Linked DNA regions of Homo sapiens. The protein of the gene in region 2 purifies or fractionates together with the protein of the main gene of each other region. This does not show direct contact. Each region holds a gene or a part of one and is shown on either strand. Other genes may lie near its edges. The genes, in order: INF2, POF1B, OLFM4, POMK, BACH1, SRSF4 and TCTN2.

The links.
Region 1: the proteins of POF1B (region 2) and INF2 purify together in Homo sapiens (co-immunoprecipitation; one large-scale study listed by IntAct). This does not show direct contact.
Region 3: the proteins of POF1B (region 2) and OLFM4 purify together in Homo sapiens (co-immunoprecipitation; one large-scale study listed by IntAct). This does not show direct contact.
Region 4: the proteins of POF1B (region 2) and POMK purify together in Homo sapiens (co-immunoprecipitation; one large-scale study listed by IntAct). This does not show direct contact.
Region 5: the proteins of POF1B (region 2) and BACH1 purify together in Homo sapiens (co-immunoprecipitation; one large-scale study listed by IntAct). This does not show direct contact.
Region 6: the proteins of POF1B (region 2) and SRSF4 purify together in Homo sapiens (co-immunoprecipitation; one large-scale study listed by IntAct). This does not show direct contact.
Region 7: the proteins of POF1B (region 2) and TCTN2 purify together in Homo sapiens (co-immunoprecipitation; one large-scale study listed by IntAct). This does not show direct contact.

Annotation. Positions count from the first base shown.
Region 1 is NC_000014.9:104,695,831-104,700,174, forward strand, and holds part of INF2 (inverted formin-2), read left to right. Parts: intron 1-4,344.
Region 2 is NC_000023.11:85,282,166-85,286,509, reverse strand, and holds part of POF1B (protein POF1B), read left to right. Parts: intron 1-4,192; coding exon 4,193-4,307; coding exon of another isoform or gene 4,308-4,331; exon of another isoform or gene 4,332-4,344. UniProt on the Homo sapiens protein: Plays a key role in the organization of epithelial monolayers by regulating the actin cytoskeleton. May be involved in ovary development.
Region 3 is NC_000013.11:53,048,932-53,053,148, forward strand, and holds the end of OLFM4 (olfactomedin-4 precursor), read left to right. Parts: intron 1-1,037; coding exon 1,038-1,840; 3' UTR 1,841-3,126; downstream 3,127-4,217. UniProt on the Homo sapiens protein: May promote proliferation of pancreatic cancer cells by favoring the transition from the S to G2/M phase. In myeloid leukemic cell lines, inhibits cell growth and induces cell differentiation and apoptosis.
Region 4 is NC_000008.11:43,120,438-43,124,491, reverse strand, and holds the end of POMK (protein O-mannose kinase), read right to left. Parts: intron 2,386-4,054; coding exon 1,615-2,385; 3' UTR 1,058-1,614; downstream 1-1,057. UniProt on the Homo sapiens protein: Protein O-mannose kinase that specifically mediates phosphorylation at the 6-position of an O-mannose of the trisaccharide (N-acetylgalactosamine (GalNAc)-beta-1,3-N-acetylglucosamine (GlcNAc)-beta-1,4-mannose) to generate phosphorylated O-mannosyl trisaccharide (N-acetylgalactosamine-beta-1,3-N-acetylglucosamine-beta-1,4-(phosphate-6-)mannose).
Region 5 is NC_000021.9:29,304,753-29,309,096, forward strand, and holds part of BACH1 (transcription regulator protein BACH1), read left to right. Parts: intron 1-451; exon of another isoform or gene 452-570; intron 571-4,344. UniProt on the Homo sapiens protein: Transcriptional regulator that acts as a repressor or activator, depending on the context. Binds to NF-E2 DNA binding sites. Plays important roles in coordinating transcription activation and repression by MAFK.
Region 6 is NC_000001.11:29,157,523-29,161,866, forward strand, and holds part of SRSF4 (serine/arginine-rich splicing factor 4), read right to left. Parts: intron 3,274-4,344; exon of another isoform or gene 3,040-3,273; coding exon of another isoform or gene 2,996-3,039; coding exon 2,853-2,995; intron 2,489-2,852; exon of another isoform or gene 2,342-2,488; intron 1,965-2,341; coding exon 1,852-1,964; intron 1-1,851. UniProt on the Homo sapiens protein: Plays a role in alternative splice site selection during pre-mRNA splicing. Represses the splicing of MAPT/Tau exon 10.
Region 7 is NC_000012.12:123,691,153-123,695,496, reverse strand, and holds part of TCTN2 (tectonic-2 isoform 1 precursor), read right to left. Parts: intron 2,840-4,344; coding exon 2,774-2,839; intron 656-2,773; coding exon 521-655; intron 278-520; coding exon 200-277; intron 1-199.

The DNA.
Region 1 (4,344 bases), on a different chromosome or scaffold from region 2:
AGCCACCTCCACCGACACTTGCCAGAGTGCCATGAAGGACCCCTGGCCCCCAGCTCTGCTCTCTGGGTGACCCAAGCAGGGGCTACCACCGCTCTGAGCCCAGCTTCCCTCTGTGAGATGTTGCTGTCTTTTGATCATTTTGCTTGCTTTCTTCCTCAGTATGAAACGACCATATTCATCCGAGATGCAGCTTCAGTTAGTGATTGGGCAGGTGTCCCGGTGGTATCGCACCCACCATGTGATTGAAATCCGTCACCATGCGGCCTGCTTCCCATCTTTGTCTTCTGATCATGATGCTGCTGAGAGCGCCTTTCTGCCCACCTGCTCCCAGGGGGCCCTTCTGTCCTGCTGTGGGTCCTCACAGTGGCCCGGGGGCCCTCTTTGCACAACAAGCGGAGTTCAAGATCTTGGAGGGCTTTGGAGGCAGGAGCCTTGCACTCCATCCAGATCTTGGGGACTGCAGGTGGCATGAGGGCTGGAGTGCTTCTTGGGTGTGAGACGGGCCAGGTGACAGTGAGGACACAGCCAGCCCTCACCAAGGCCCAGTGCGCCCCATGCCCCTGGACACGTGGCAGTGGGTGGACCCCCATCCTCACCTGCCTTGAGGCCCCCTGTGCACAGACCCTCCCTGGGCCTTGCCGGCAGTTGGTGAGCCACCAGGTCAGTAGAGGTCCCTCAAGGGGCTGTTGGCCTGGTGGGGAAGGTGACACATGCTGGAGGCTCAAAGGAGCTGGGAGTCTGAGTGTGAGGGAGGGGAATGGGGGTCATGGTAGGGCAGGTTCAGCTCCAGGTGCCTCCACCGCCCTGCAGGGCCTGGGCTGCCCAGAACCCCGGGGTGCTGCCAGGAACGCGTGCAGTCCTGGAGATCCATGGGTTGCCAAGCAGTGGAAAAATTGGGGCTCTCGGAGGAGCTAAAAATACAGTGTGGCAGCCCCTGCCTCCTAGTTCCGGAATCCTCTCCTGCCGTTCTGCCCACCCACCCCGTGGAAGACAAGCTCCCTCCCTGCACCCCCACCACCAACGCTGGCTCAGGGCCCAGAAGCACCCAGCCCTGTGCCAGTGCCAGAAGGGCGACACCACAGCTGCCTGCCCACTCCCAGGCAGCAGCCCCCCACAGGTGCTCATGTGCCCAGCCAGTGCCTGCCCTACCCCCGCCACTGCTTCAGGGTCCCCAGAGCCCCTTGGTCCCAGGCACAGTAGGCAGTACCTGCCACCCCAGGGCTGCCAGGCTCAGGGCTTGGCCTGTTCCTCGTGGGGAGCCTGGACCCAGGCAGACCTCTCCCTTCCCTACCAGTGGGGACTTCACAGGGGAGGGGGCTGTCCCAGGCAGACTCAGAACATGTCACAGCGGGGGCCTCCAGGCCCATTGGTGCTGGCCGAGGGCATAGGAGCTCCCACACTGTGCTGTGGAAGGCCCTCCTCGCCTGGCTCCTGGGAGGCAAGTGAGGGAGCCGAGGCCTGGGGGCTTCAGTGGCTGGCTCAGGTCCCTCGCGTGCTGGGATTCAAGTCTGGGTACCCTAACCCTGGCCTGTGTGCCGCTCAGAACCATGGGCCCATGCAGGAGCCCCCAGCTACTCTCCACAGCTCGGTGCTGGGCCTGCCTCAGGAGCCCACACTCCCTGGCTCTGGTTTTCTGTCTGCACCGCAGGGGCTAGGCACATGGCTGCAGGTCTAGTGAAGGCCAGCATGGCCCTGTCCCCACCCACACCACACACTCAGCTTGACTGTTGACTGCTAGGCGGGGCGGTGGCCCGGTGGCTTCCCGAGAGTCAGTGCAGCTGCCCTAGCATGTAGGCATTCGGATGGAGGTGCTGGCATCACCACACCAGGCTGGCCAGGCCCAGGCCCAGAGGGGGACCCTGCCTGCCAGAGCTAGAGTCAGGGGAGAGGCATGGCCCCGTCCTCTGGAAGCCCCAGGCTATTGGTTGACAAAAGCAAGTGCTGAAGAACCATGGTGATGTCCCACTAGCATGGGTGGGGTGAGCCCCTCAGACCTCAGAGTCTTCATCTGCAAAAGACCCTGCCCTGTGCAGTTCCATTGGTGCTGGTGGACTGCCGGGGGGGGTGGATGGGACGCCCCTTCTTGGTGCCCTGACCCTTTTGCTGTCCAAGGCATGGGGTCTGGCCTGAGCCATGGGTACTGGGCCCTGCAGAGCCTGGATGGTCCTGCCCTGCCTCAGCCAGAGCTGGTGCCGGCTGTAGAAAAGATTGCGAAGAACGCAAATTCCTGTGCCTGTGGGGAGGTGGCCACGCCCTACAGCCGGGGCTGGGGAGCTCTGAGGACACATTCCTGCGCTGGTGGCCCCGCCAACCCACTTTCCAGATGGAGAGCAGAGGGGAAGGGTAGCCTGCCCAGGGGCACACAGCTCAGCAATGAGACTCCCGCCCCCTTCCCTTCTCAGTTGGCACTGGCACCTTCCAGCGTATTGTTCCCCATAGCCCCGTGCCCCTGAGATCAGTAAACTGTGGATTCCTTCTGGAATCCTTGCAGAAGTGGACACCACCCCCCAGTGAGAACAGGCAAGGCTGTTTTTGCAGAGCTCGCTGTAGCAGGGAGTCGGCCACCGCCACCCGCGTTTAGCAGAGACTCACAGGCGGGCGGGGGAGTGGGAAGCCTCATGGTTTTCTCATATGGATAATTCACTCTATACATAGAAAGCTTTTTATAGACACAGGGAAGGCTCGGGGATGCCCTGAGAGAGGCTGCTGGCTGGAATTTGGGCTCCTATGAGATGAGACAAAAATCACAGAAGCTGTCAGTTATTACCCAGGTCCCAGCCATTTGGGGCCAGTGGCCAGATTGCGGGTCAGAGTGCTGCATATATGGTCTGGCCGTGGTGTGTTTGCAGGTTCAGCCTCATGCTGAAAAGCAGTTGGAACATTCTCCGGTGTAGAGCCTGACGGGGGGCCTGGGTGAGATCGGGCAGCCTTGGCAGCACCACAGAAGGAGGAGAGCAGCTCCGGCCTCAGCCTCCGGGGCCTCAGCCGGAGCCCTGTCTATGCCGGGCCGCAGCCCAGCGAGACCCTGTTACACTCACTGCCCCCAGACAGCACCCGGTGGGACACGGCCAGCTGGGGCAGCTCAGACACAGAGCCAGGCACCCAGGCACGGGGGTATAGGAACCTGATGGGCAGGAGGGCCAGTTTCCTCCCACCGTGGCTCCACCCCACTGACCAAGGGGGATCCTCTTGACTGGGGTCTTTCAGGGGCTTGCACAGGGCAAGGAGCGCTGGGCAGTGCCAAGAGGGGCAGTACTCAGGTCAGGGAGCATCTTCTGTGTCCAGGGACACCCTGGGGCCTGGGGCACGGTGGCTCTCGGCGGCACTGCTTGTCTCTAAAAGGTCAGGATTTTTTGCATGGAGGGACCCCCGGGGCTCTTGGCTGGAGAGGACACTCTGGATGCCAGGGGCCGGGCCTGGGAGAGTTCATAACTCCGTCCACTCAGCCTGTGCCAAGGGGACAGGGACTCCGGCCAATGGAGGCGGGGGAGGAAAGGAGGGTCAGTTCTGGGGCCTCTTTAGGCAGCAACAGCCAAGGCGGGTGGGAATATATGCAGAGGCCCGGCTGCCTGGCTCTTCATGGTGGTGGGAGCAACCCTACTGCCACCAGGAGGGGCGTTGGGGACCTGAGGCTGCCTGGGAGGGACCCGGCTGTCTCTGGCAGCTCAGCGGTCAGCAGCGATGAGAAGCCAGGGGAGCGTGAGGAGCAGCCCAGGACAGGGCCCAGAGTGGGTGGGCAGAGGTGGCCGGAAGGTCTTGCGCATCTGGGTGAGTGGACGGCCACTGGGTGACCAAGAGGGCCGGGCCTGGGAGGGTGGCTTAAAACCACAGTGCACCGGGGGCTCCGGGCTCTCCGTTCTACAGTGCCCAGACCAGGACCCCCTGCAGGGAGGAGGGGCATCCCAAGGACAGCCTCTCAGGATGCTCCTGGCAGCCTGGTGCTGGAGGTGCAGAAGAAGAAACTGAGGCCCAGGCAGGATGAGTGACTGGGCCAAGGTCTGCTGGTGAGGGCCCGGGCTGGGGACATGCAGATCAGAACCCTGGCTTACACCTGTCAGGCTGCCTCCTGGAAGGAGCCCACTGGCCCCCTGGGGCAGTTGGACAGGTGGAGGGCTGAGGGGCGGTGCGGGGAGTAGGGGCTGGACTGCCGGAAACACCAGGCTTGGTCGTGGACCAGGCTGGGGAGTGGGCCTGAGACCTCAAGGGCAGGTGCTCCAGGACACTCTCCCAAGGCAGGAGGGGAGGAATAGAGCCTCCTGGGGAGGCAGGCGCTTGGGTGCTCGACCCCGCTCAGCTCCCGTGACCTCAAATGCCCTTCAGCCTGGGGTCCCCTGACTTACCGGG
Region 2 (4,344 bases):
GTTTTTATCAAATTTAACAATCTTTGCTTTTTAATTGAGTGTTTAGGCAATACATATCTATATGGATAGATTTAAATTTACTATCTTGCTATTTGTTTTCTATTTACCTCACATTTTCTTTCTTTCTCTTTTCCTCTCTTCTTTTGGATGAATTATTTCTTCATGTTTCATTTAACCTATTTTATTAGCTTATTAGGTATACTTCTTTCTTTTGTTTGCTGTAGGGTTCATAATATTCTTCAAGTGATCACTGCCGACTTCCAATAATATTATATCCCATCACATGTAGCATAACAACTCTGTAATAATCAACTTCCATTTCCTTCATATGACTAATATGACTTCTACTATTTTTATCATATAAACTTCTTTCACATATATTATTAGCCCCTAAATACATTATTGTTTTTGTTTTCAACAGCCAACTATCTTTTAAAGAAATGTTAACAATAAGAAAAACAATGTTGTAAATTTACCTACATATTTATCTTTTCTGGTGCTATGTATTACTTTGATCAAATTCAAATTTCTATCTTGTATCATTTTCCCTTTGCCTTAAAAACTTCTTTTAACATTTTTTATCATGCTTCTCTGGTGAAGACTTCTTTTGGCCTTTTAAGTCTAAAAACAGTCTTTATCAATTCTTCATTATTCAAAAGTATTTTTGTTGTGTATAGACGAGTAAGCTGGTCATTTTTAAAAATTTTTTATTATACTTTAACTTCTAGGGTACATGTGCACAATGTGCAGGATTGTTACATATGTATACATGTGCCATGTTGGTGTGCTGCACCCATTAACTCATCATTTGTATTAGGTATATCTCCTAATGCTATCCCTTCCCCCTCCCCCCACCCCACGACAGGCCCCAGTGTGTGATCTTCCCCAACCTGTGTCCAAGTGTTCTCATTGTTCAATTCCCACCTATGAGTGAGAACATGTGGTGTTTGGTTTTCTGTCCTTGCGGTAGTTTGCTCAGAATTATGGTTTCCAGCTTCATCCATGTCCCTACAAAGGACGTGAACTCATCCTTTTTTATGGCTGCATAGTATTCCATGGTGTATATGTGCCACATTTTCTTAATCCAGTCTATCATTGATGGACATTTGGGTTGGTTCCAAGTCTTTGCTGTTGTGAATAGTGCCACAATAAACATACGTGTGCATACGTCTTTATAGCAGCATGATTTATAATCCGTTGGGTATATACCCAGTAATGGGATGGCTGGGTCAAATGGTATTTCTAGTTCTAGATCCTTGAGGGATCGCCACACTGTCTTCCACAATGGCTGAACTAGTTTACAGTCCTGCCAACGGTGTAAAAGTATTCCTATTTCTCCACATCCTCTCCAGCACCTGTTGTTTCCTGACTTTTTAATGATCGCCATTCTAAGTGGCCTGAGATCACTGTGGTTTTAATTTGCATTTCTCTGATGGCCAGTGATGGTGAGCATTTTTTTCATGTGTCTGTTGGCTGCATAAATGTCTTCTTTTGAGAAGTGTCTGTTCATATCCTTTGCCCACTTTTTGATGGGGATGTTTGATTTTTTCTTGTAAATTTGTTTGAGTTCTTTGTAGATTCTGTATATTAGCCCTTTGTCAGATGGGTAGATTGTAAAAATTTTCTCCCATTCTGTAGGTTGCCTGTTCACTCTGATAGTAGTTTCTTTTGCTGTGCAGAAGCTCTTGAGTTTAATTAGATCCCATCTGTCAATTTTGGCTTTTGTTGCCATTGCTTTTGGTGTTTTAGTCATGAAGTCTTTGCCCACGCCTATGTCCTGAATGGTATTGCCTAGGTTTTCTTCTAGGGTTTTTATGGTTTTAGGTCTAACATTTAAGTCTTTAATCCATCTTGAATTAATTTTTGTATAAGGTGTAAGGAAGGGATCCAGTTTCAGCTTTCTACATATGGCTAGCCAGTTTTCCCAGCACCATTTATTAAAAAGGGAATCCTTTCCCCATTTATTGTTTTTGTCAGATTTGTCAAAGATCAGGTGATTGTAGATGTGTGGTATTATTTCTGAGGGCTCTGTTCTGTTCCATTGGTCTATATTTCTGTTTTGGTACCAGTACCATGCTGTTTTGGTTACTGTAGCATTGTAGTATAGTTTGAAGTCAGGTAGCGTGATGCCTCCGGCTTTTTTCTTTTGGCTTAGGTTTTTCTTGGTAATGTGGGCTCTTTTTTGGTTCCATATGAACTTTAAAGTAATTTTTTCCAATTCTGTGAAAAAAGTCATTGGTAGCTTGATGGGGATGGCATTGAATCTATAAATTACCTTGGGCAGTATGGCCATTTTCACGATATTGATTCTTCCTACCCATGAGCATGGACTGTTCTTCCATTTGTTTGTGTTCTCTTTTATTTCCTTGAGCAGTTGTTTGTAGTTCTTGAAGAGGTCCTTCACATCTCTTGTAAGTTGGATTCCTAGGTATTTTATTCTCTTTGAAGCAATTGTGAATGGGAGTTCACTCGTGATTTGGCTCTCTGTTTGTCTGTTATTGGTGTATAGGAATGCTTGTGATTTTTGCACATTGATTTTGTATCCTGAGACTTTGCTGAAGTTGCTTATCAGCTTAAGGAGATTTTTTACATTTTTTTTAAAAAAGTACTTTAACAATATTGCTCTTCTGTCTTCTGACTTTCATTGTGACTGAGAAGTTTTTTGTTAATCTTATGATTTTTGTTCTTTGAATAATGTCCTTTCTTCTCTGAGGCTGTTTTTAAGATTCTCTTTCACTGGTTTTCAAGAATTTGATAATGATGTGCCTCTCTGTAGTTTTCTTCATGTTTCTTTTTTTCACGTTCACTGAGCTTCTTGGATACGTGTGTTTATAGCTTTACATCATGCTTGGAAATAATTTGGTCATTATGTCAATTATTTTTTTCCACCACCAATCCTGCAGGACTTTAATTATATATATATGAGGACATTTGATATTTTCCACAGTTATTTCATGCTGCATTCATTTTTTTCCGTTTTCTTTTATGTTTTATTTTAAATTATTTATTTTGATGTATTAAAATTTATCGGTCTTTTTGTAATGCAGTGCCTAATCTGCTGTTAACTCCACCTAATTTTTTTAATGTTTAGTAGTCCAATGTGGATCTTTTTTATATTATCTATTTCTCTCCTGTGTTCATGCTTTCCTCTAACTTCTTGAATATACCTTGTATATTTTATATGTTTCTAATAGATGCACATTTACCTACTAATTTTTTTATCAGTGTTGTCTCTTGGTCTGTTTCTACTAATTTATATTTCTCTTCATTATTAGTCGTATCGTCCATTGCATGACTATTCATTTTTCGTTGAATGCCATGAATTGTGATTTTATATTGTTGAGTTTTAGATTTTCGCTAGGGTATTACTTAAAATATTTGGAGTTTTGTTCTGAGATGAAATTATTTGGAAACAATTTAATACATCCAAGCCTTGCTTTTAAACTCTTTGAGAATAACCTGTACTTTGAGGCTAATTTTATCCCACTACTAAGGCAATATTCTGCAGTATCTATCTGATGGCCTCTATATCAGGAGAGCTTTTCACTCTGGTTTTGTTAGTGGAACACAAAACATTACCATCCCTATGAGAGCTCCCAAAATTGCCAGCCTGCTCCTTTCTAGTCATTATTTCCTAAGTCTTGGTAGCTTCTTCACATACAGGCACACTGATCAGTTTTCACCCAAAGGCTTTTGGGAAAACCTCTACAGCTGTCCTGACCTCTCTCTATCTATGTAGCTCTCTTCTGTCTGATACTCTGCCCCACAAACTCTGGGTGCCTTTGCCTATATTTACTCTAAACTTTATCACCTTATCTTGGTGAGACTGCTGGGATCTGTTTAGCTTCCTTTTACTTATCCCGTGACCAAGAAAATCTCTCCAGGCAGTGAGCTAGGCACTTGTAGGGCCCATATCATTTGCTTCCCTTTTCTGGGGTCACTGTCCTGTGCTGCCAGTCGTCCATCATGGCCAGAAACAGAAGTCCCTCTATTTTATTTTCTTGAAAATAATGGTTGTACATCTCTGTCCATTGAAATAGGGTTTTTTTATTTTTTTGTTTTTTCAGTAACAGTTAAAAAGTCATTCAGAGCCGAATTGGCTTAATTAGGGCAATCAAACTAGGAGTGACTAAAAAGGAATGAAAGTTATTTTCTCATGCAGCCTGTAAACTAACTCTTTTCTTGCCAACAGGTACAGGACACAATATCCAATCCTAGGCCTCCTATATGATGACTACGAATATATACCACCAGGTAGTGAAACACAGACTATTGTGATTGAGAAAACAGAAGACAAATACACTTGTGTAAGTTCACTTGGGCATTTTTAGCCCTATTTTGACG
Region 3 (4,217 bases), on a different chromosome or scaffold from region 2:
AAATACTGGAGGAACTTTATTTTATTTTTATAGCTCATAAACTCCTGGGATGGCAGGCATTTCAGCGGGAGTACAATGTGAAGGGTTGATCGCCCAGACTGAGTTATTTACCCAAGTGTTACAGGGAATGTAGATTCAGTGGACCAGTGAATCTTGTCCCACTTGATTGTACACATTGTGACAATGACAGTGTCTGGATGGAAAGATGAAATACTTGCATGTCATTCTATGGCACAATAGCATATGGGTTATGAACAGCAGGACTCACCATGTAACTCTGCAGCAGGACGGTCAGCAAGTGATTTATTGATGGGCTGTGCATTGGGTACGGAGCAGGCAATGTTGCCCCAAAATAACTTTATGGCTTCTCAAGGGTGAAATCCCACCATTATAGGACCATCTTTCTGGATCTATAAAATGCTATATTTAAAACATCCTCTTCTGAGAATAGCTTAAAGCAGGATTGGTACCTGGCGTGGATGTGCAATTGGGGGTCCCAAGGAAGGGGAGAGTGAGGAAGGGCATGAAGCCTTGCCTGGGAAAATCTTCTCCCTCATCACTATTCTTTCTGGGATAGATTTCTATAAATCTTGTGGATTTATAGAAATAGGGTAGGATTGTGGAATAATCTTGCTTCCTTGATTTTGCTATAAGAAAAACAAAATAAGATAATATTTGCAAAATGCTTTCTGATAGAAGGAAATATATTAAATTCACCAAGTCTCCCTTTCCTCTCTCTGGGCCTCCAAACTTTTTAAATATAGTTCTTGCTGGTTTCATTATTCCTATTTTCCAGATTGAAAGCCCACCCATGGAAACAGAATGTAGTTCTCTGTAGAGCTGACATTGGGTTTGCATTGAGACTGAATGCACTGAACTAAGAGGAGGTTTGGCTCTTCTCCATCAGAACCACTGTTGTTATTGAACCTTGACAGGAAAAATATTTATAGATTCCTTTGGTGCTTAGGATATTAAACTATTTGTATCCTGTCATTCCTTTTCTCTAAAAATGCCTTTTTATTTTCTTGTTTGTATAGGGAGCTGTGGTCATGGTGGTGTGGTGAACATCAGCAAACCGTCTGTGGTTCAGCTCAACTGGAGAGGGTTTTCTTATCTATATGGTGCTTGGGGTAGGGATTACTCTCCCCAGCATCCAAACAAAGGACTGTATTGGGTGGCGCCATTGAATACAGATGGGAGACTGTTGGAGTATTATAGACTGTACAACACACTGGATGATTTGCTATTGTATATAAATGCTCGAGAGTTGCGGATCACCTATGGCCAAGGTAGTGGTACAGCAGTTTACAACAACAACATGTACGTCAACATGTACAACACCGGGAATATTGCCAGAGTTAACCTGACCACCAACACGATTGCTGTGACTCAAACTCTCCCTAATGCTGCCTATAATAACCGCTTTTCATATGCTAATGTTGCTTGGCAAGATATTGACTTTGCTGTGGATGAGAATGGATTGTGGGTTATTTATTCAACTGAAGCCAGCACTGGTAACATGGTGATTAGTAAACTCAATGACACCACACTTCAGGTGCTAAACACTTGGTATACCAAGCAGTATAAACCATCTGCTTCTAACGCCTTCATGGTATGTGGGGTTCTGTATGCCACCCGTACTATGAACACCAGAACAGAAGAGATTTTTTACTATTATGACACAAACACAGGGAAAGAGGGCAAACTAGACATTGTAATGCATAAGATGCAGGAAAAAGTGCAGAGCATTAACTATAACCCTTTTGACCAGAAACTTTATGTCTATAACGATGGTTACCTTCTGAATTATGATCTTTCTGTCTTGCAGAAGCCCCAGTAAGCTGTTTAGGAGTTAGGGTGAAAGAGAAAATGTTTGTTGAAAAAATAGTCTTCTCCACTTACTTAGATATCTGCAGGGGTGTCTAAAAGTGTGTTCATTTTGCAGCAATGTTTAGGTGCATAGTTCTACCACACTAGAGATCTAGGACATTTGTCTTGATTTGGTGAGTTCTCTTGGGAATCATCTGCCTCTTCAGGCGCATTTTGCAATAAAGTCTGTCTAGGGTGGGATTGTCAGAGGTCTAGGGGCACTGTGGGCCTAGTGAAGCCTACTGTGAGGAGGCTTCACTAGAAGCCTTAAATTAGGAATTAAGGAACTTAAAACTCAGTATGGCGTCTAGGGATTCTTTGTACAGGAAATATTGCCCAATGACTAGTCCTCATCCATGTAGCACCACTAATTCTTCCATGCCTGGAAGAAACCTGGGGACTTAGTTAGGTAGATTAATATCTGGAGCTCCTCGAGGGACCAAATCTCCAACTTTTTTTTCCCCTCACTAGCACCTGGAATGATGCTTTGTATGTGGCAGATAAGTAAATTTGGCATGCTTATATATTCTACATCTGTAAAGTGCTGAGTTTTATGGAGAGAGGCCTTTTTATGCATTAAATTGTACATGGCAAATAAATCCCAGAAGGATCTGTAGATGAGGCACCTGCTTTTTCTTTTCTCTCATTGTCCACCTTACTAAAAGTCAGTAGAATCTTCTACCTCATAACTTCCTTCCAAAGGCAGCTCAGAAGATTAGAACCAGACTTACTAACCAATTCCACCCCCCACCAACCCCCTTCTACTGCCTACTTTAAAAAAATTAATAGTTTTCTATGGAACTGATCTAAGATTAGAAAAATTAATTTTCTTTAATTTCATTATGAACTTTTATTTACATGACTCTAAGACTATAAGAAAATCTGATGGCAGTGACAAAGTGCTAGCATTTATTGTTATCTAATAAAGACCTTGGAGCATATGTGCAACTTATGAGTGTATCAGTTGTTGCATGTAATTTTTGCCTTTGTTTAAGCCTGGAACTTGTAAGAAAATGAAAATTTAATTTTTTTTTCTAGGACGAGCTATAGAAAAGCTATTGAGAGTATCTAGTTAATCAGTGCAGTAGTTGGAAACCTTGCTGGTGTATGTGATGTGCTTCTGTGCTTTTGAATGACTTTATCATCTAGTCTTTGTCTATTTTTCCTTTGATGTTCAAGTCCTAGTCTATAGGATTGGCAGTTTAAATGCTTTACTCCCCCTTTTAAAATAAATGATTAAAATGTGCTTTGAAAAAAGTCATCTTTTGTTTTATTTAATTTTAATTTTTTTTTAAAGCTCTTAACAGGGTAGTCCATATCTTGCTATGAGGTTGGGAGAATGGCTACCTCCCAAACACTAGTGCGGGGAGATTGCACACCTAACAACAGATCACATCAATAACTTTTATAAGAGCCCAGAGTTAGGCTGGCTCTTTCATTTTTCTTTCCCTTTAAAATCCACTCTTTCTGGCAGCTTTTATTGTACATGACTGCCCTATTATCTTTTGGGATATGACCTTATGTACTTATTAATTTGCATGACTGATCTGATTATTTCCAATGCTAGACTACATTTATGTAGCTTATGTTCCTTTTCCAATTGAGCTATGAACATGGATCAGAAGCCTCTGGATCTTCCCCAGACAGGAGGACTTGGGCAGAAAGCAAAAGGACTAACTGGCTATACCAGGAAGAGAAGTACCTTTACCAAAGAGAATATGTAAGAAGACAGGTGACCTAGAGCTGGAAGGACACAGTGGACTGATGTAGTTAGTCTTACTGAAATGCTCATTTTGGATCCTTGCCAAACTTTTTGAGACAGATGGCAGCTATAATATTTAGTATTTTAGTAAGATTTTTCCCTATCTCTTCAGGGCTGAGTGTAGAGACAGGTATGCCCTTCAAAATGCAACAAGATATGAAGATAAAGACATGTATGTCATGTGAGATACAAGTTAAAAACCAGGATGTTATATTTAATCTGGCTCTAGGCAGTTTTCCAGATCAATGTTTTGTACCAAGTACACAGTATGACCTCTGAAGATTCAGGAAAGGAGGCAGGAAGCCAAGGTAACCCTAGCAATCAGCTTCTTATTTGAACTGCTACAGAAGCATTTGCCTGAAAAAATTCACTTCCCAGCCTCTTTCTCACTGGACGTGGTGTATCAGCCTGCAGTGGCTGCCTGCAGGAAATCTCCCTGCAGGGAAGGTTGAAGGACTCAGGGATTCAGGCTCCTGGGTTTACCGCAGTGCAGTTACACAATGGGAAATTTAGCTCCAGATTCATCAGCTACTGCCTGTTTTGAAATTTACATATATATATTATAAACATAAATTACATAAGGTAT
Region 4 (4,054 bases), on a different chromosome or scaffold from region 2:
CATCTGATCTTCAAATAGACAGGATGGTATCTACCATCATGAAAACAAACAAAGGCTTAAAACTCACTAATAGAACAGAAACACAAATGAGAAAAAGGAATCAAACATTATGACTATTTAAAAAACCACCAAATTGTAAAGTAAACAATACAAAAGAAGATAGGTGAAACCCCATCTCTACTAAAAGTACAAAAATTAGCTGGGTGTGGTGGTGGGCACCTGTAATCCCAGCCACTTGGGAGGTTGAGGCAGGAGAATTGCTTGAACTTGGGAGGCAGAGGTTGCAGTGAGCCGAGATCCTGCCACTGCACTCCAGCCTGGGAGACACAGCAACACTCTGTCTCAAAATAAAAAATAAAAATAAATAAAAAAGATAGGAAAAAATATATACAAGACAATCAGAAAACAAATGCACAGGACTAAGTCCTCACCTATCAATAAAAACCCTGAATGTAAATAATTTAAATTCTCCAATTAAAATACATAGACTGGCTGAATGGATTTTAAAAAAACAAGATTCAACTATATGTTACCTATAACAAACTCACTTCACATGTAAAAACACATATAGACTGAAAGTGAACAGATGGAAAAAAATATTCCGTGCAAATTTAAACCAAAAATGTGCAGGAGTAGCTATACTTATTCATAATAGACTAAGTCAGAAAACATAAAAAGGGACAAAGAAGATCATTACATAATGAAAAAGGGATCAATTCAGCAAAAGGATGTAACAATTTTAAATATATATGCACCCAATACCAAAGTACTCACATGTATAAACAAACACTATTAGAGCTAAAGAGAGAGGCAGATCCTAATACAAAAAAAAGCAGGGGATTTTAATGCCTCACTTTCAGTATTGGGCAGATCATCTAGAAAGAAACATCAGACTTAATCTGCATTATAGACCAAATGGACCTAACAGACATTTACAGACCCTTTCTTCCAACAGCTGCAGAATATACATTCTTCTCATCAGCACATGGACCATTCTGCAGCATAGACCATATGTTAGACCACAAAACAAGTCTCAATAAATTTTTAAAAATCTAAATCATATCAAGTACCTTCTCAGACCACAATGGAAGAAAAGTAGAAATCAATAACGAGAAACTTTGGAAACTACAAATCCATGGAAATCTAACAACTGGCCAGGCATAGTGGCCCATGCCTGTAATCCCAACACTTTGGGAGGCCGAGGAAGTCAGGAGTTCGGGACCAGCCTGGCCAACATGGTGAAACCCCACCTCCACTAAAAATACAAAAATTAGCCAGGCGTGGTGGTGTGCCTGTAATCCCAGCTACTCAGGAGGCTGAGGTGGGAGAATTGCTTGAACCTGGGAGGCAGAGGCTGCAGTGAGCCAAGATCACATCACTGCACTCCAGCCTCAGCAACAGAGCAAGACCGCATCTCAAAGAAAAAAAAAAAAATCTAACAACCAATGTGGACTACATACAAACGTACATGTGGATGTGGACAACGAACCACATGGCTAAGCCATAAAAAAAACAATAAAACACGAAACTCAGGCAAAAAACTCCACCATCAGAGTAGAATGCTGTAACTTCCATTCAGCCCTTCAATCCCACCTTCATTGGCTGGACTGGTTTTCACAGCATCTCTCTTGCCTGAGACATCATGGCATCTCTAAGTGTATCCAAGACCTTCTGGTAGGTCTCCAGAACGTCCTGGGCAGTGGGTCTTTCTGAGGGAGTCTGGCTCTTGCATGCTTTGTGAATATCAAACAAATGGAATCGGACCATATCACTCCCTTCAATGTGCCCCAGAAGGAAACTGGAGATGTCTGGGATCTTCCAAATGTCAATCTTCTCATCATATGAGGGCATGAGATCATCGTGGAAAGGCACGTCCTCTCCATAGGGCCACAGTTGCTCTGGAGCCACGAAATCCCCATGCAGCTCCCTGTGGCCGCACTTCACCAGCATCCCGGAGCTGTGGTTCACCAGGGGTAAGGCGTCCAAGTCATTTGCCAAAATGCTGAAGTTGCTTGTTAGCAGATACTGGGACAGTGTCTTCGGCAGGTCGTTGGAGTCGCACATGACCCGTGTGCCCACAGGGCTGTGGTGCAGGTAATTAATGATGCTGACATAGTCCATGGCCAGCTCCAGCCTGTGCTGCCACGTGTTCACATTTTGGTACTTTGAAAGGTTTAGTGTTTCTTCCAGGTTACTCAAGGAACCTAGAGGGTGATATTCAGTAAGCATAGTGTTGTCATCCTCACAATAGCCAAGCAGCGTGACAACATGTGTGCCTTGGAGAGATTTCAGCATCTGCAGTCCATGGAGGAAATCATCTTTCATCTCCAGGCTGGTGAGCTGTGAGAGTGCAACTTTGTGCTCCTTCCACTCAGACAGAAAGACCTGCAACAAAGCCATAGAGAGCATCAGGCCTGAACTCTCACCTAATTTAGTGACCAAAGAACAACAAATATCTTTTAAGTGGCAGGTGTTCTGCAGAAGATACAGAAATTAACAAGGTGCAGACCCCATCGTAGAGTTGCTCTCCGTCTAGTTATGAAGAGAGACCGATGAGCAAACACAGCATTCAGCAAGGCAAGTGCCACATTAGTGGGTGGAACCTCAGGGCAGGAAGCGATTGCCTCTGGGCAGGACACTGAGAGCTGCTGCAGAGGGTGCTGGAAGGCTTTGGGAAGCTGGTCTCATAGAACGAGGGGGACCTGCAGATTCAATGTAGGGCAGGGGAGTGCTAGCTCAGGAGGGAAGACTCCATATAACTGCATGGCAGGGAGGAGTGGCAAGTAGACTGCCAGTTCCAATGGACCACCACACAGTGGGTGGGGAGGAAGAGGAGGCAGGGGAGTGGACTGGAAAAGTGGGTAAGTGTGGAGACCCCGAAAAGCCTACATGAGGGCGTAGAGCCCTGCCCATCACGTGTAACAATGTTACTCATTAATTTTAAAAGGTGGCATAGTAAATCATAAATAGGAACATTTATATGTAAGGAAAACATTTTTGCATGTTCTGTGGTTTGGTGTTACTTCAGCTGTAAAGGCAGGAGCTGAAATGCTACATAAACACTAGACCTTCTCATAGAGTCCACAGCTAATAGAAGAGCAAGTTCACATTTCTGCCTTGGATTTTCACCTTTCATTTGCTTGCAGGAAGCACTGTAATTAAAGGAAGAACCTCTGATCTTTTGCTTAAATCCCAAGAGAAGGCAGAAGATTACAAAAGAGAAAGCAGGCTCAGGACTCAGGAGATTCCTGCCCCAGGCTCATTCTGCAAGCAGTGTGCCATGTCATTGTTCAAATAAAGGTTATGGTTTCCAAAGCAGTTTTTTGCATTATTTATCAAGAGACTCTAACATCTAAATCTAAGGCAATAATCGGAAATAGGTAAGAAGCTCCAGGAATAAAAATCTGACATTATTTATAAAAGCATACACTGAAACTTATCAAAAGATGGGAGCAGCATGATCAACATAGTGAGAACCCATCTCTACAAAACATTTTTTAGAAACTAGCAGGGTGGGCCAGGCGTGGTGGCTCACACCTGTAATTCCAACACTTTGGGAGGCCAAGGCGGGTGGATCACCTGAGGTCAGGAATTCAAGACCAGCCTGACCAACATGGAGAAACCCTGACTCTACTAAAAATACAAAATTAGCCAGGCGTGGTGGTGCATGCCTGTAATCCCAGCTACCTGGGAGGCTGAGGCAGGAGAATCACTTGAACCCGGGAGGCAGAGGTTGCCGTAAGCCAAGATCACGCCACTGTGCTCCAGCCTGGGCAACAAGAGTGAAACTCTGTCTCAAAAAAAAAAAAAAAGAAAGAAATTAAGAAACAAGCAGGGTGTAATGGAGCGTACATGTACCCCCAGCTACTCAGGGGAGGCTGAGGTGGGAGGATCATTCAATATATATATATATCATGCGGTCACCAAAATGTATATATTTATACAGTTATAACAGATAAAAGTAATGGTACGGCTGGGTGCGGTGGCTCATACCTATAATCCCAGCACTTTTGGAAGCCAAGGCAGGCAGATCACCTGAGGTCAGGAGTTGGAG
Region 5 (4,344 bases), on a different chromosome or scaffold from region 2:
GGTCCTATTGAAGAAATAGGGCGACCTATCCACCCAACTTCCTCTTTACTGATATCTTCACATGCTTATTGCCTTATTCATTTTCTAAAGTGTGCCAGCGTCTTTCAGAAGTCAGCTAAATTAGTGCAGTTGCTCATCCATCAGACAGTTTTGTTATAAAATATGTGGCTATAAAAGATTGAATAAATTTATTAGGTTGTAATTTCATTAATGTGTATTTTATATTTAAATATTATTTTAAAAAATGTACAGTGGTTATCTGATCTTGGCCCAGGCCTCTTCAATTTCCAGTGTACCTGATGTCTCTTTATCAACTGTTTTTCTGAGGTGTATCTCAGCCTGGCCTTGGGTACTCCCCTAGGTAAGAGTCATAATTCAGGTTAAAAGAGGTAAGAAAAAAAAAAGCTTTTGGCTTTTGTAATCTTGTTTTTTTTTTTTTCTTTCACATTAGCAAAAGACTGTTGAAGTAGAGAGCATTTTGCCCAGCTCACTCGGATTCTTTGCTGGCATGCCTTCAGTTTCAGTTGTCATCCAGAGAAGTCAAAGGAAATGCTGCTTGGGGATGAGCATGTAATTACGATTAACTTTCCCTACTTCGTTGTCTCTTTGTGGTAAAAGACTGTCACAAGTGCTATTCAAACTATAGGTATTTTTTTTTAGATTTCTAAAAAGTATATTTTGTCTCTGAGGGCCTCCTGTCTTTGGACTAGTTTGTCTTTTTCCAGACCCCAGAAAGGCTGGGCCACCTTTTCTTCTTTGAGCAGGTTGGCAACAGTGGTCACAAATAGCAGAGGAGCTGAGATTCTAGAGAGCTATCCTACCACTGCTTCTCAGATGCCAGTGTGGAAACAGCCTCTTCTTTTTTGTTGAATTAGCTTGGAACAGCTCTCTAATCTCTGAAGAGTGAGGAAAAACTGTGTTTTTAAGTTTCAAGGCTAAGGCACTGTGTTCTCTTTTCTCCCTGTTCCTGCTGCTGTTCTCCCCCAACTCACATGAACGCATACTTAACTTTCAGTGTATGTGGACAGTAGGGTTGCTAAATTCATGTCAATATTTGTGGCATTCCTACATGTTAGGCATTTGGTTTACATTTAACTTATGAAACAAATGTTTAGGCTTTTATAAGCCAGGAACTTTTCCAGATATTGGCAATAATGAACTTTTCAGAAGTTACAGTCTAATAGACAGGCAAACTATTCCCATAGCATGCTATAGTAGCAACATGTAAAATGTGCTGTGGAACCACAGACTATTAAAAGCCTAAGTTTTGGGAAATCAAGAAAGCCTTAGGGATGTTTAGTGATGAATGCATAGGTTAGTGGAGGAAACAACTTGTATCAACTCAATTTGAGAAGCTTAGCTGTGAATAAGAGGAGAGAGAAATAGATTTTAGTAGGGAGAAGTTGGGTCAGGAAGAGTGTGTGTGTGTGTGTGTGTGTGTGTGTGTGTGTGTGTGTGTATTTAAAAATCCAGTCAATGGAAAAAGGTTGAAGATGCAGGCAACGTCCTTGTTTTGTCCTTGGCAAGTTCCTCTTATGGTTGCAAGATGGCTGCCACAAGTTCAAGTGTCACAAGAAAATATGACTTAAGTTTCCTGGAAGAAGACACACTTTTTTTTTTTTTTTCCTAGGTTGTTGCTATCAGTGAGAAAAATTTTTCCCTAAAGCCTCATAGCAGATGCTACCTTGTCCCTCTCTCCTCTCTTCATAGGTCAGCATTGCACACAAGCCAGTGCCTAAATGAGTCAAGGTCAAGGGGAATAGTACCGCTGTGATTGGCATAAATGGATCGTGATTCATCTTAGGTTGTGGCTGGGGTCTACTTCCTTGGAAGTTGATGGCCTCGGGTTGAGAGTAGATACGTGAGCACAGTCAGGGTTTGGTTAGAAAGTGAGGGGGTGAATGGTGTTGTGCAGTTAACAGTGACATCCTTGTCTACTAGTTCTGCCACCACTACACTTAGATACAAACTTCGGAGGAGAAAAAGAAAATGTGCTTGCCTTTGGATTTGGAATTTTAGGTGACTTTTTTTCCTCTTATATGCCATTTCCTTCTATGATCAAGTAGCACTTTTACAATCAAATCAAATCAATGGTTTATTTAAAAATTATTTAAAAATTGAAAATGCCAATTTTGTCAATAAATATATATAGAAGAAATAATTTTTTTTTTCAATGCTTTAAACATTTCAAAAGTTCCCTGCCATTGTCTTATTCCTTTCAGGGAGAGGAGAACATATAATTATATCTTGTAGTTTCTGATTATGTGTATACTAAGAGGACTACTCTGTCCCTCAGTCCATAGTGCACACCCACCTGTGGTCTCTATGGCTTGCACTGAGTGCTGAGGCCAGCCTGGCTCAGATAGAATTGTTAGTTCATTGGCTAGATGGGTCAGGATTCTTTAGAATGCAAATTCTTGAATCAGGAGTACAAACAGGAACATCTTCCCTTTTCTACACACTCATTCCCCTCCTCGAAGGGAAAGCTGTCCCGTAGTTAGCTTATTCGTCATTCTTTTCAGACTTTAAAATTAATGCCACCTTAAGTTTATACAGTATTCTTGTAGTACTCCTAACTTTTCTGTTTTGCTGTATGTGTACATTGTAGAAAGATTAAATCAAGCTAATTAACATGTCCATTACCTCACTTACCTTTGTGTGTGTGTGTGTGTGTGGTGAGAACCTTTAAATCTACTCTCTTAGCAATTTTGAAATACAGTAGGATCCCCACCCACTGTTTTACTTTCAGCAGTTTGTTACCTGTGGTCAGATGAAGTCCAAAAATATTAAATACAATAGATATTTTGAGAAAGAGACAAACATCACATTCACATAACTTTTATTACAGTATATGGTTATAATTGTTGTATTTTATTATTGTTAATCTCTTACTGTGCTTGATGAAAAAGCATAGTATATATATAGGGTTTGTTACTATCTGCAGTTTCAGGTATCCACTGGGGTTCTTGGAATGTATCCCCTGTAGATAAGGGGGACACCTGTGTATGTTGTTACAAGTATGATCACTGTGTAAAAGCACTTTTGTATTTCATTCTTGTTCCTTCTCAATCGCAGGTCTGGGTGCTTTCTGTGCTGTGAAAGGCAGACAAATAATGTAAATCCTAAACACTTGAGTGTTGTAAATTTACAAAATGAGAATTGCTCAATGGTTGTTTCTTTTTGAGAGTAACAAATAGACTGTGATAAATGGCCAGAGTAGGCTTCTGAACTGGTATTAGTTTTTTGGATAGAATTTAGAAAGACTTGTACTACCAATATAATTTTTGTCTCAGATAAATGCAATAGTATTTCCCTACTCAGTAGTTCCTCAGATGCTATTTAAACTGAGCTATATTTCAGCTTTATTTATAGGCTGCAAATTGTTCCTTATTTGGCTGAATCTTGTGGTTATGATATAATGAAAAGTAGTTACTGAGATCACTGGTGCAAATCTGTAGCTTGGAAATCCTCATTTTAGAAATGATTATTTTGACTCCCAAGTTAAATAGTAAAAAATAGACTTATGTTTTTAGTTTTAGCTATGTATATTGAGAAACTGTGGCCCTACGGTGGCTGTTAGGGATTAGTGGATTAGGTTGTTTTTAAATAAGACATTTCAGTTTAGTATCTCTACTTGAATAAAACAGTTTCAAATTTGTGATTCATATGATATACTGATTGCCCTACGGTAACTTCTGTTTTATTTAATTAAAATTGTTAACATTCTTTTTTATACTCTTAAGCACCTCCCTCCACCCTCACCCCCCTTTTTGACTCAAATTTTATTGTGAGTTGGTGTATAGTTAGGAATTTGAAGAGCACTTTTTTTGTTTATTTTATCTTTTCGGTTACTATGCATACTATGTGTGTCAACTCTTAAACCTGCAGGGGGTCATTTTGGCCATCAACTAGTTTTAGGGCTTTCGCCTCCTAAAGAATATGAATTATGGTTGTAATTTTTACAGTTTAAAAAACAAGATGGCATATGAAGAATCTTTATTTCATTATGAAAATAGAACATGGATGCTTAATCCTCTGTATTGAAAGTAACTTGTAGTGAAATACTTCCTAGTGTTCTCTTCTTCTAGTTGTCCATATGTAGTATGTATAACTATAGACCTTGATGATTTAAGTTGAGCACAGTTTAGTGTCAGGTTCCTTTCAGTGATGCATGAGATTGGTTATATGATCTAGTGAGTGTTATTTAGAAATTAATTCACCAGACCCGGGTGTGGTGGCTCATGCCTGTAATCCCAGCACTATGGGAGGGCGAGGCAGGCAGATCACCTGAGGTCAGGAGTTCGAGACCAGCCTGGCCAACATGGTGAAACCCTGTCTCTACTA
Region 6 (4,344 bases), on a different chromosome or scaffold from region 2:
CTACGGTGCTGACGATAAGCATGATGCACCTGAAAAAACAGCAGACTGGGAGTCAGGAGTCCTGGTCCCAGCTCTTCTGCATGTTACTTGAAGGTTGCTGGGATTAAATTTTAAAAAGAAAAACAAAAAAGTGCTTTAAATTAAACTATACAAATGTAAAGGATTCCTAACTATTCTTTCCTGAACCTAAATACACTTCACTCATTTGGCTAGAGATGACTTGTTTAAATATGGCCAAAAAAAGCGAGAAGGGAGACAGAAAACAAAACCTGTTTCATGCATCCTCCTAAGACCATTCAGATTATGATACTGCTCAGTAAGTTTTTCTTCCTATTGAGATTAAAAACACTGTTGTCAATAAGTGGGGCCGGGTGCAGTGGCTCACGCCTGTAATCCCAGCACTTTAGGAGGCCAAGGCAGGTGGATCACTTGTGGTCAGGAGGAGCTCGAGACCAGCCTGGTCAACATGGTGAAACCCCGCCTCTACTAAAATACAAAAATTGGCCGGGCATGGTGGCATGCACTTGTAATCCCAGTTACTCAGAGGGCTGAGGCAGAACTACTTGAACCCCAGAGGCGGAGGTTGCAGTGAGCTGAGATGGCGCCACTGCACTCCAGCCTAGGCGAAAGGGCGAGACTCCATCTCAAAAAAAAAAAAAAGCTGGAACCAGTACACTGGATGGCCAACATTAGCACTGAATCTTAATTCTTGACACCAAACCTCTTTCAGGACAAATATTCCATCAAAAACCTTATGAAAAAACATGGGTCAGATTGTCAATTTCACCAGTAAGGATACACACTGAAGCTGATGTGAATTTGCATGTTATAGCAAATGCTGCAGGAAACACTGATGGTTTCAACCATTTTATTGACTGGTGAGTAGCTACACTGCCATCTTCTTGTAACCCTTTTTTTTTTTTTTGAGACAGAGTCCTGCTCTACTGCCCAGGCTGGAGTGCAGTGGCATGATTTTGGCTCACTACAACCTCCACCTTCCAGGTTCAAGCAATTCTCTTGCCTCAGCCTCCCAAGTAGCTGGGACTACAGGTGCCCACCACCACGCCCGGCTAATTTTTGTATCTTTTTAAGTAGAGACAGGGTTTCAAACATTCTTTACAGAGAGAAATTTCGTTATCACACATTTGGGCCAGGTTTCTGTCATGTCAGCACTTGAGGAGGCTGAGACTGAAGGATCACTTGAGGCCAGGAGTTCGAGACCAGTCGGGGTAACATAGTGACAACCAATCTCTGAGCCATGATTGTGCCTCTGCACTCCAGCCTAGGCAACAGAGACTCTGTAACAAAACAAAATCAGGCCGGGCGCGGTGGCTCACGCCTGTAATCCCAGCACTTTGGGAGGCTGAGGCGGGTGGATCACAAGGTCAGGAGTTCAAGATGGTGAAACCTCGTCTCTACTAAAAATACAAAAAAATTACCCGGGCATGGTGGCGGGTGCCTGTAATCCCAGCTACTCAGGAAGCTGAGATGGAGAATTGCTTGAACCCGGGAGGCGGAGGCTGCAGTGAGCAGAGATGGTGCCACTGCACTCCAGCCTGGGCAACACAGCGAGACTCCATCTCAAACAAACCAAACCAAACCAAACCAAACCAAACCAAACCAAACCAAACTCACAAATGTGTCCTTAGAATGATGGTCCCACAATGTATAGCAGGAATATAATTCTGATATATTTTGTACTCATATGGCACTTTAATTATTTCCAGCTCTGTGCAGGCTTTCAAACATATAACACTGTATTTTGTGTATGCCTGGGCCTGCACAAATCTACCTGTTTCCCAACTTTAACTCCTGCCCAACCTTACCCCAAAAGGTTAATGGGGCCCAAACCTTTAGGTCTTGCCAGCTGCACCGACTTGACAAATTCTCCACAATAAGTCTGTACTCTGTGCGAGTAGGAGGGCCATATTTATCTCGGCCACTTCTTCTATAACCATATCCACCTTTGGAAGGTTCAAATAAATAAGATTATTTCAGTGGAAGAAAAGGAAAAAAAATGACACAGCACACACCCCCCCTTAAATATATTATTTACCCCCACCCCAAACAATAGCACGTTTTAACTCTATTCCCACCCTTAATTCTAAAATAGATTTTTAAAGAAGCAATCAGCTAAATATAAACATTTAATTTAAAAAGTTGTAAGTATACATATTCATTAATATTTGCATTTAAGATTAACATGCATAAATTTAAAACTATTAACAATTTAACAATTTAGAAATAAGTAACCAAATTACTAAATCAGTTACTGGTGTTACTCACAGTGATTAAACATTTTGTGAATATTTTATATGGAAAAAAAAAGATTTTCAGGCACCTATTTCAGTTTAATCTCATCTGTGTCTAACCCTTGGGATCCTCACCACCCAGGTCTAATGGGGAAAGGTTGCGGTCGTCACATGGCTTCCTGTTTTTGGTCAGCCAAGGGCCACAATGGTTCAAAGAGCCACGCATGGAAAGGTAACCCAAGGTCAGCAAATGGAACAGGCAGTCATCTTAGCCTCAAAGGATTCTTTTAATTAAAACATTGAGGTCTTTGTTAAATCTATGTTAAACAATTGCATTACAGAGAAAAAAACAACAACAACACAAACACACATCATTAAACATATTTATAAAGTATTATAAACAAGAAATTGTCATTAGTTTAATTAAAATTAAACATTATCAAAGGCTTATTTGTAATTCTACATTTTTAAAAAAGATACATAATTTACAAAATAGCTTAAACATCAATACGTTTAAATGTAATATCAATTAATTACTTTAAAAATTAGCATGATAACAAAAGCACGTTACTGATAAAAGTATGCCCTTTGAATGCTTACTGCGTCCAGAACCGTAACTGCCATCTCGCCGTGGGCCGCGGGCATGCTCAACAATTACTCGCTCACCACAAAGGTCTTTGCCATTCAGTTCATAAACAGCATCATCTGCATCACGCAGATCATCAAACTCCACAAAACCATATCTAGAAGAGAGCAAAGAAAATACTGGTTGGTACCATTTTGACATCCAGCTTCACTAACATTAAAGAGAAAGCAATGAGGTTCATGCTTAGCAAAGGTTAGGTGGATTTTGCAAACTAAGGATCAACTTTGTCTTCTCTTCAGGTGAAACCACTTTGCTTTGTGCCAACAGGCACTGAAAGAGGTAGGGAGACTTCTCAAAGTAGACTCCTATCTTTCTAGGAGGAGGCTGGCTACATACACAGGACACTTCTTTTGTTTCCCAAGTAGTTGGTGGCAACTGCAAAGACAGGGATGCTTGGTATAAGAATCCAAAATATATAATGCTACAAGACATATAACGCTCTTTCAAACACCACATAAAACTCATCTTTTTTAGCTTTAAAAGTGGTATCTTAGAGAACAATTAGACCTACATTCAGGCACTGTGTAATAACTGTTGAATCATGTGAAAGTAAAAAACTTTTTTTTAAGGTTCCTGTTCCTCTACGTAAACACATCTGTCACATGTGATTATCAGTGAAAAAAAGACTGGAGCTGTTTACTTCCCTGTGAGATTCCAAATTCATTTCCATGAAGTTTTAGAATAGGATGGAATTCTCTGAAATCTGTATACAACTCGTGCAAACTTCTTTAAATGGTATTGCTACATCTTTTCCAGCCAAGAGGTTTGGTGGCTTAACATATAACCAAAAGAACCCCCACCATCCTACTAATGCCTATTAAAGAGTACAATTTATATAGCTAAAGTGCAAAATTTGTAAGATACTTATAAGCAAGGTTATACAAATGCCCTGTAAATTATGTTTTCAAGAAATATTTAGTTTGGTCTGACACAGCTGTGAAAAGTCCAGCTTTGTGACCATTGCCTATATTTAAAAACCAAAACCATCTTATTGATCATAACTAATCAGAAAGGAAAGTTACAAGCAATTTCTTTAAACTCTAGTAAGGCTGTGTGTACACGGGCACACAGACTAGTGTTCCTCTGCATTTAAACACACTGACACTACAAACAAGTTACAAGACTTGTCAGAGGGTCACTCAGCCTGCTGACAAAAAATGATTCCAGTTTACTTATTTATTTATTTATTTTATTTTTTGAGACAGAGTCTCGCTGTCGCCCAGGCTGGAGCGCAGTGGTGCGATCTCAGCTCACTGCAACCTCCACCTCCTGGGTTCAAGTGATTCTCCTGCCTCAGCCTCCCGAGTAGCTGGGATTACAGGCGCACGCCCCCATGCCTGGCTACTTTTTGTATTTTTAGTAGAGACAGGGTTTTGCCATGTTGGCCAAGCTGGTCTCAAAACCTCAGGTGATTCGCCCTCCTGGGCCTCCCAAAGCGCTAGGATT
Region 7 (4,344 bases), on a different chromosome or scaffold from region 2:
TGAGCCGAGATTGCGCCACTGCACTCCAGACTAGGCAACAGAGCAAGACTCCGTCTCAAAAAAAGAAAAAGAGAAAATAAAGAAAAAGGTCAGAGTCAGAAACTAAATTGGAGAGAGTTACTTATAACCATCCTGATGGCTGGGAGTGTTGAACTAAAGTATGTTTGTAAGATCAATGACTGGCATATACTCATCTTACCTGGATTTCCAGATAATTCTTCTTCATTACCACTATTATAGCTTAAAAATTTTACTACAAATCTCTGTGTCATTATCCCTAGAAATAAAACAAAATAAAATATAATGTGCACCATTTCACTAGGAAAAGAAATTATTCTCCATAGTGTTTACCTTAAAATTGCATTTTGTCATACAAAGTGTACTCTCGTTAATTAAATCATAAATGCACATAAGAAACAAGTCCAACTTAGTTTTATGGGTTATAATTATGAGAATCTTGAAAAGAGGAAAAAAAAATACTTTTCAGTGAAAGCATGCTTGCTACCCTCATCAAAGTTACCTTTCTGGTGGGCATTAATCTCTGCCCTAAAAATTTTAACATTTATTTCACTGATGGTATTATTATTCCATTTGAAAATATAATGTTCTTCCACATTCACAATTCTAGGGGTTGATCCGTTATTTAAAGGAGTTTCTGCAAATACAAGAATATGTTCATAAATTAAAGACCCTCTTTGAGCCTGACTCTGTTACTGGGAGGTTCTCTCTGCTTGCGTGGCCTTCCCCAAGTGCCCTGCCCCTGCCCTCCCTATCTCCAGCTCCCTAACATGGCACGGTCACTGCTTCCTTGAGGAAGCCTGCCCTGGTCCCACCAAGTCAGCATTAGCTGCCTCCTCTATGCCATCACAGTACCCAGAATGAGATCTGTTCCTTTCATTTCTATATCTCCAGCACCTGGCTCATAGCTTGCCATGGAGCATGCACTTGGTAAAATGTTTGTGAGATGAAAGACCAGAGGGTCAGTTCCGCCAGGGCAGGGGCCCGCTATCTAGTTCCCTACTACGGCGTAGGAACTCCACTAACATTTGATGAGCCAATGAATAAATTTGAGAAGTACAACACATCAGAAAGAGACACCCAGCACTTGGGGAGGCCGAGGTGGGCAGATCACCTGAGGTCAAGAGTTCGAGACCAGCCTGGCCAGCATGGCGAAACCCTGTCTCTACTAAAAATACAAAAATTAGGCCGGGTGCGGTGGCTCACGCCTGTAATCCCAGCACTTTGGGAGGCTGAGGCAGGCAGATCACGAGGTCAGGAGTTCAAGACCAGCCTGGCCAACACAGTGAAACCCCCTCTCTACTAACAATACAAAAAATCAGCCAGGCATGGGGGCAGGCACCTGTAATCCCAGCTACTCGGGAGGCTGAGGCAGAAGAATCGTTTGAACCCAGGAGGCAGAGGTTGCAGTGAGTGGAGACTGTGTCACTACACTCCAGTCTGGGTGACAGTGAGACTGTCTCAAAAAAAAAAAAATACAAAAAAATACAAAAATTAGCCGGGATTGGTGGCAGGTGCCTGTAATCCCAGCTACTCAGGAGGCTAAGGCATGAGAATTGCTTGAACCTGGGAGGTGGAGGGTACAGTGAGCTGAGATCACCCTATTGCACTCCAGCCTGGGCGACAGAGCAAGACTCTGTCTCCAATTAAAAAAAAAAAAGAAAAGAAAGAAACAAACAGTATCCTTCATTAAAAACTAAAGTTCTGGTAAAATTAGCCAAACTGAGCCAGTCGCCGTGGCTCACGCCTGTAACCCCTGCACTTTGGGAGGCCAAGGCAGGTGGATCACCTGAGGTCAGGAGTTCGAAACCAGCCTGGCCAACATGGTGAAACCCCGTCTCTACTAAAATACAAAAATTAGCCAGGCATATGGTGGTGAACACCTGTAATCCCAGCTACTTGGGAGACTGAGGCAGGAGAACTGCTTGAACCCAGGAAGTGGAGGTTATAGTGAGCCAAGATTACACCACTGCACTCCAGCCTGGGTGACAGAGCAAGAATCCATCTCAAAAAAAAAAAAAAAATCTGCCAAACTCTACGTAACTTATTTGGCTGCATCACAATTGGAAAGTTTAATTATCAAAAAAAAAAAAAAAAAAAAAGGAAAGAAAGCAAAAAGTGAAAATGCTGTGCCCTAAAAAGTTCTTTTAACTGGTCGGGCGCGGTGGCTCACACCTATAATCCCAGCACTTTGGGAGGCCAAGGCAAGTGGATCACCTGAGGTCGGGAGTTCGAGACCAGCCTGACCAACAGGGAGAAACCCCGTCTCTACTAAAAATACAAAATTAGCTGGGTGTGGTGGCGGGTGACTATAATCCCAGCTACTCAGGGGGCTGAGGCAGGAGAATCACTTGAACTCAGGAGGCGGAGGTTGCAGTGAGCCGAGATCATGCCATTGCACTCCAGCCTGGGTGACAAGAACAAAACTCCGCCTCAAAAAAAAAAAAAAAAAAAAAAAAAGAATTATTTAACTATCAAACATTTAAGGAAAGGTTCACGGAAGCTGGAACTAGAAGGGTCGGTGGAACTCAGAGAATCCAGGACTGTGGAGGAGCAGGCTCAAGGTCACAGAGAGCACTCTAAAGCCCAGCAGGACAGAACGAGGAACAAATGAAATGTTCCTGGCAGATCTTTCTAACTATTGTGAACCTTTTTAAATGACTAACAAAAATATACACTCTGAGGGTATATATTACTTGTAAGAAATGACATATCTGTTTCTGAAGAAATGACGTCAAAGTGTAACATTAAATACCTGTATTGGTGATGAATTTGTCTAGGTCAGTTGCTTCCTCATAGATCACTTTTGGTGTAACTATGCCTAAAGAGATAACATAAATTAACTTCCACAGGCGTACACATGGCCTACCATGATCACACTTACTCAAAGTATAGCTTACAAAGCAAATATGGTGACCGCAACTGCCCAGGGTGCTGACTACAAAACCCTCCCCACTCCCCAAAAACCATCAGATAGGAGTCCCCATCCTCTTAGCATCTAATTATAACGGAGGAAGAAAATCCACAACAAACACACAAACAAACAAAAACCAGGGTCACTGTGACATAAAAACAAATATGCAGTTCACTGCTGGTGGCAATACAAAATGGTGCAGACACTGTAGAAAACAATTGGCCAGGCGCAGGGGCTCACGCCTATAATCCCAGCACTTTGGGAGGCCGAGGCAGGCAGATTGCCTGAGGTCAGTTTGAGACCAGTCTGGCCAACATGGTGAAACCTCCTCTCTACTAAAAATACAAAAAAATTAGCCGGGCGTGGTGGCTCATGCCCGTAATCCCAGCACTCTGGGAGGCCGAGGTGGGTGGATCACCTGAGGTCAGGAGTTCGAGATCTGCCTGGCCAACATGGTGAAATCCCATCTCTACTAAACTTCGTCTCTACTAAAAATACAAAAATTAGCAGGGCGTGGTGGTGGGTGCCTGTAATCCCAGCTACTCGGGAGGCTGAGGCAGGAGAATCGCTTGAACCCAGGAGGTGGAGGTTGCCGTGAGCCGAGATCGCGCCATCGCACTCCAGCCTGGCGGACAAGAGCAAGACTTGGTCTCAAAAAAAAAAAAATTAGCCAGGTGTGGTGGCACATGCCTGTAATCTCAGCTACTTGGGAGGCTGAGGCAGGGGAATCGCTTGAACCAGGGAGGTGGAGGTTGCAGCGAGCCGAGATCACGTCACTGCACTCCAGCCTGGGTGACAGAGCAAGACTCCCTCTCAAAAAAAAAACCAAAAAAACAAAAAAAAAACAATTTGGTGGGTCCTCAAGAAGTCATATTAGCATGACCTGTCAGTTCCACTCCTAGGTGTCTACCCAAAAGAAATAAAAACACACATCTACGCAAAAACTTGGACACGAGTGTTCATGGCAGCACTATTCACAACAGTCAGAGATGAAAACAACCCACATGTCCATCAACTGAGGAATGGACAAACACAATGTGCTCTGTCCATGCAATGGACTATGATTCAGCCATAAAAAGGAATGAAGTGCTGCCACACACTACAAACACGGATGAACCATGGAACACCATGCTCAGTGAAAGAAGCCAGACACAAAAGGCCACATAGTGTATGATTCTGTTTCTAGGGAACACCCAGAATAAGCAATCCACGGAGACAGAAAGCAGATTGGTGGCTGCCAGGAGCTGAGGGAAGAGGGGTAGGGAGTGACTGCTAATGGGTACAGATGCCCTTCTGAGGCGATGAAACGTTCTGGAACTAGAGAGAGGTGATGGTGGCACAACAGTGTGGAAGGTACTAATGTCAATGAATTGTACACTTTAAAAGGGTTAATTCTGGTGGGACGCGATGGC